Linked DNA regions of Homo sapiens. The protein of the gene in region 2 interacts with the protein of the main gene of each other region in a pairwise test. Each region holds a gene or a part of one and is shown on either strand. Other genes may lie near its edges.

Region 1 (3,500 bases), on a different chromosome or scaffold from region 2:
TTAAATACTAGAAAACAGAATCCAACAGCATATTAAAAGGTAGTATATCATGACCAACTAGAGATTGTTCCACAAGATATTAGAGAATCAAATAATGTAAAACATTATATTAATAGATGTAAGAAGAAAAATCATGATCATCTCCAAAGACGCTAAAAAGGCAAATGAACAAAATCAAAATTCGTCTTTGATAAAAACTCATAGGACGCTACAAATGAGTACTTCTTTACATTAGAAAACCACTCTCCTCTGCCCAAAGAAAGTACTATGATTAATGGAGAAACATTACCAGCATTATCACCAAAATCACAAGACAAAGGTACCTCCTACTGCTACCATTTTGTAACACTGATTGGAAAAACTAGCCAATAGTATTAAGCAAGAGAAAAACCGGAAGTACAAAATTGGAAAGGATGTGATAAACTATTTGCAGATAGTACCTTTATACACCTGGAATATGCAAGAAAATCACTAAAAAACAGCTGCTATAAATAATTCATTAAAGCAGCAAGGTCAAGATAAATAGAAATCAATACCCTTCATAAGTACAATCAACCAACTTAAAAGACAAGGAAAGCAAATTTTTCAATTAAAACAACAACAAAAATCTTGAAATAAACTTGAGAAACATGTGAGACGTTCATGAAGAAAACTTTCAAACATCTCCTGAAGGACACATAAGATACCTAAGGAAATGGAAAGGCATTATGAATTTTTGAATACAAGATTTATTATGAAGAAGCCAATTTTCCCTGTGTCAATTTGCAAATGAATCTGACCAAAACCCCAGTGAGAATATTAAATATTAAAAAACAGGCCAGGCGCAGTGGCCCATGCCTGTAATCCTGGCACTTTAGGAGGCTGAGGCAGGCGGATCACCTGAGGTCGGGAGTGTGAGACCAGCCTGATGATCACGGAGAAACCCTACCTCTACTAAAAGTACAAAATTAGCCAGGCGTGGTGGCACATGCCTGCAATCCCAGCTGCTTGGGAGGCTGAGGCGGGAGAATCGCTTGAACCTGGGAGGCGGAGGTTGCAGTGAGCAGAGATCGTGCCATTGCACTCCAGCCTGGGTGACAAGCGCGAAACTCTGTCTCAAACAAAACAAAACAAAACAGGCCGAGTGTGATGGCACACGCCTGTGGTCTCAGCTACTCAGGAGGCTGAGGCAGGAGGGTTACCTAAGCCTGGGAGTTTGAGGCTGCAGTTAGCTATGATTACATCACTTCACTCTAGACTGGGTGACAGAAAGAGACCCTGTCTCAAAAGAAGAAAACCAAAAAACCCCACAGGAAACAGAATCCAACAGGGTATTAAAAGGCAGTAATATCAACCAAGTGGAGACTGTTCCACAAATATATTAAAGAATCTAATAACATAAAACATCATATTAATAGAGCTGAAGAGGAAAATCATTTAATCAACTCCAAAGGTACAAAAAATGCAAGTGAACAAACCTAAATTTTTTTAAAAAATGAAACAAACTTAACCTTTAAATGGAAAAGACTAGCGAAGAAAATGCTGAAAAAGAGCAATGAGGGAAAACTAGTGCTACTAAATACTAAAACAGTGTTGTATGGCATTTGACTAACTGGACCAGGACAGGAAAAGATAGAAAGTTGAGAAATATGCCCAAGTACACATAGAAATTTATTATGTGATAAATCTAGCAGCTTAAAAATATTTCTATCTTGCCCAGGGATGGTGGATCACACCTGTAATTCCAGCACCTTGGGAGGCCGAGGTGGGTGGATCACTTGAGCCCAAGAATTGGGACAAGCCTGGGCAACATGGCGAAACTTTGTCTCTACAAAAAATACAAAAATTAGCCATGTGTCGTGGCCCACACCTGTGGTCCCAGTTACTTGGGAGGCTGAAGTGGAAGGATCGCTTCAGCCTGGGAGGTGGAGGTTGCAGTGAGACGAGATCAAGCTACTGCTGCACTCCCACCTTAGCGACAGTGTTAGAACGTCTCAAAAACAAAACAGACTATACAGGGTTCGGCATGGTAAACTCATGCCTGTAATCCCAGCACTTTGGGTGCCTGAGGCGGGAGGACTGCTGAAGACCAGGAGTTCAAGACCTGCCTGGACAAGAGTGTCACTCTGTTGCCCAGGCTGGAGTGCAGTCGCGCGATCTCAGCTCACTGCAACCTCCGCCTCCCGGGTTCAAGCAATTATTTGCCTCAGGCTCCTGAGTAGCTGGGATTACAGGTGCCCACCATCATATCATGCCCAGCTACTTTTTGTATTTTTAGTAGAGACGGGGTTTCGCCATCTTGGCCAGGCTGGTCTTGAACTCCTGATCTCCACCCACCTCGGCCTCCCAAAGTGCTGGGATTACAGGCATGAGCCACTGTGCCCAGCCAGACAGATTTTAAACAAGACTTTTTTGGAAAAAAAAAAAAAAGAGACTATGCAATAGTATACATGAAGTTATAAAATGGTGTATACTTCCTTGATTAGCCCTCAGTAATACCGTCACTATTACTTCCAACTCGGATAACAGAGTGAGAATCAGGCTGCCAAGAAAACTATACTATTGCCTTACACAATGATAGCAGCTACCACTGACTGAGCACACAGTATACAATACATGTTATATAAATACTTTACATACATTCTCATGAAACCCTCAAAAACTCTATAAGTACTCTTATTCTCATTTTACAGATAAGGAATGTAAAGTTAGGTAAGTCATAAATTCACTAATATCAGAAAAGAGGTTACACTAACCTCCCATTTATCTTAAGTGGTATAGAGAGAAAAGAGAAGACATTCTTTTCTTTTTTTTTGAGACAGAGTCTCACTCTGTTGCCCAGGCTGGAGTTCAGTGGCGCGATCTTGGCTCACTGCAACCTCCGCCTCCTGGGTTCAAGCAATTCTTCTGCCTCAGCCTCGCGAGTAAGCTGGGACTACAGGTGCCCGCCACCAAGCCTGGCTAATTTTTCTATTTTCCTTTTTTTTTGTAGTAGAGATGGGGTTTCACCATATTTGCCAGGCTGGTCCCGAACTCCTGACCTTGTGATCCGCCTGCCTTGGCCTCCCAAAGTGCTGGGATCACAGGTGTGAGCCATGATGCCCAGCTGAGAAGACATTCTTGATATTCAAAGAACATATCAATATTAACTCATGAAGGCCACACTACACTCATTTTTTGTGTGTACAGAAAATGTCATTTATGAAAAAAGGCCTGATATAAAGGCTTTATAATTTTGATTTAATGGTCTTCCCCACTTTAAGATGGAATACACACACAAGTTAGCCATCATTCACAATGATATTACTGGCAAATCTTATTAGACAGGTCAAGATTCCCCACTGGTGCAGTGACTGATACTTTTGCAAAGTTCCCAAACTCTCAGGTCTATGGTCACTCTGCAATTGGTATTTCCTGCCAAATGGACTTATTACCTTGCCAATCATGGTAGACAAATCTCCATCACTCAGAAGAGGATTCTGAGAATCTCCAACTCGAGATGGATCTTTTGTTGCTTTGTC
Region 2 (2,637 bases):
TCTCACCTCTGCCTGCTCAGGATTCCTAACACTTTCACAATTACCCACGCCAGTAGGAAATGGCACAGCCACGTTCCTAAGGGGGTAAATACTCTGCCAAGGCACAGCAAACATATAGGGCATGTGTAATAGGTTTGGTGGACTGGATGGGGGTAGGAAGTGCAAGAAAGGGTCTCCGATAGCAGAGTAGGTGAGCCTCGCAGGACTGGCCAGGCCTGAGGCAGCTTCCCACAGGTGCTGTCGGAATGTGGGCTGGATTTGGGTTTACGGAGCTCCAGGTCAGGGAGCCGGGATGAGCAGAATCTCAGCAGCTGGCCTGGAGCTGAGCTGTATGGGAACCCTACCCTGCTGGACCGGGGCTGGACCCCAAGGGGCCTTTCTATCCCTCCAAATACAAAACAGAGTTCCCTGAACTCTGCGAAGGTGGAGACATAGACTCGGCCCCAGAGTCACCTCCACATCCCGGCAAAGCAGGAAAACAGCACATGAATGCCAAAAGCTGTGAGTTCTTTTTCTTTTTATTGGCAAAGTAAATATATTTTTATGAAGGACCAAAGAAAATATACGTAATTGTAACATATGTACACCAGCTTCATAGATTTTTTTAAATTTCAAATTTACACAAATGTTGATATGTTATTAAAAGATATTTTATGTGGATGGACCTATGTACAGTTTATTTACATACATTCATAGGATGTGAAATAAACCTGTCAAAACAAGCTAGTTCATTTATTAATTTCTAGACAAAATAAGGAATGCATTTCTAAATCAGGGTTGGGAGGCTCTATCTAGTTCTCTCACACCCAGGACAGCCTGGCCCTCTCCTCCCAAGGCCACCCTAAAGGCTGGTGTCTGGATTTGTCTGGGAAACCGGAGGAGGGGACGAGCCCCTGGGTACAGGCCCTTCTGGCTCTGTCTGCCCTGCACATTTAACTCAAGCACATGCACTGCCAGCCCCCTAGTGGGGGACGCTTTTCACCTCTCTCCCACATGAGGGCCCAGCGGCCCGGTCCTGCCCCCCCCCCCCCCCCCCCCCCCCCCCGGCTCCAGGGACCTGCCCACACCCTCTGGTGATCATGCTGAGCAGGCATCTTAGACAAAGCCACCCTCACACCACAGTGCAGCCCTGGACTTCTGGCCTACTTCCTTCTCCTCCAGCATGACTCTCTCTGGAAACCCAACATTTCAAAACTGCACATTTCATCTTCCCCTAGCACTAAAGTTCTGGCCTTGGCCCAGGATGGGGGAGCCCAGTGGGAGAAGGGCCAGGTCCCCAAAACTCTGCCTGCAACCAGCGGCTGCAGCAGAGGCCTGGCCACCGCGGGAAGGCACGAAGGCACGAAGGCACGAAGGCCTGCCTCCAGCCCCGTGCGCCTGGGGCCCAGCCCCCAGGGACGCGGGTTCGAGGCTCTAAGTACTCCCGAGAAAGGCAGCGGTTGGCGGGCCCTGGGTTCACACCTCCCAGGCTTCAGAAGGTGGGCTGGTAACATTGCCATGTCCCTCTGGAGGAGGCAAATAAATTATTGCTTAAAAAAATGGGGATGGGGTGGGGATCCGGGGTGACGGACAGGCTGGGGTTCAGGGCGCTTTCAGTTCACGGAGCGCACGGAGCGGCTGCTCCGCGGGAAGCGGTGCACCTTGATGTGCTTGGAGAGGTGGTCGCTCCGCGCGAACTTCTTCTCGCACACAGGACACTGGTACGGCTTCACACCTGAGTGCGAGCGCCTGTGCCGCGACAGCTCGTCAGAGCGCGAGAACCTGCGGGACATGGCGCGGTCAGCGAGGCCTGGCCCTGCCTGCCCCTGCCTGCCCCGACCCCACGAAGTTGCCGGGATGCAAGGCGTGCACCTGGCACTCACCCAAAGGGTGGCTGCGCAGACCTGCAGCCTCTACAGGATTAGGGGAGGGTCCCCCATCTACGTCGGTAAGGCTATACCAGTTCTCAAAATACCATTTTTTTTTCTTTTTTTGAGACAGGCTGGAGTGCAGTGGCGCCATCACAGCTCACTGCAGCCTCCCGGGCTCAATCAATCCTCCTTAGCCTCCAGAGTAGCTAGGATTACAGGTGTGCCCACCACACCCAGATAGTTTTTGTATTTTTTTTTAGAGACCAGGCCTCCCTATGTTGCCCAGGCTGGTGTCAAACTCCTGGGCTCAAGCGATCAGGCTACTTCAGCTTCCCAAAGTGCTGGGATTAAAGGCGTGAGCCACTGTGCCAAGCTGCCCCTGCCACCCCTCCAAGATGGAAAGAACTACAGTAAAGGCTCATGCTGGCACAGTGGGCATTCTCTGTTGGGAACTGCCAGAGCAGCTGGTAAAAGCTCCCAACAGGAAAGGACCCCAATGCTACCAGGGACCAGGGCTTCCCTCCCACAGCCCACCCAGTGTGCAGGGGTCTCTGAGGCCACAGGTGCACTCAGTCGCTCAGGCCCTGATGCTGGCTGCCTCTCACCACCCTGGCCTCATCTACCCCACTGGACCAGAACTCCACAGGGGCATCTGTGAAGGCCTGTACAGGACCGCCCATCCGGAGGGGAAACGGAGGCCTGGGAGGAGGAAGCAGCACAGGGAGAGAGGTCCTCAGACTTGAGTCCACCCACTCCTGAAACCAGCTGTGCTGGAAGCTGGGCCCTC

What was found. Proteins that work in one complex are often made in the same cells at the same time.
Region 1: the proteins of KLF15 (region 2) and GTF2B interact in binary tests that used the Homo sapiens proteins (3 or more experiments, as listed by UniProt).

Annotation. Positions count from the first base shown.
Region 1 is NC_000001.11:88,860,568-88,864,067, forward strand, and holds part of GTF2B (transcription initiation factor IIB), read right to left. Parts: coding exon 3,414-3,500; intron 1-3,413. UniProt on the Homo sapiens protein: General transcription factor that plays a role in transcription initiation by RNA polymerase II (Pol II). Involved in the pre-initiation complex (PIC) formation and Pol II recruitment at promoter DNA.
Region 2 is NC_000003.12:126,342,135-126,344,771, forward strand, and holds the end of KLF15 (Krueppel-like factor 15), read right to left. Parts: intron 1,762-2,637; coding exon 1,593-1,761; 3' UTR 501-1,592; downstream 1-500. UniProt on the Homo sapiens protein: Transcriptional regulator that binds to the GA element of the CLCNKA promoter. Binds to the KCNIP2 promoter and regulates KCNIP2 circadian expression in the heart. Is a repressor of CCN2 expression, involved in the control of cardiac fibrosis.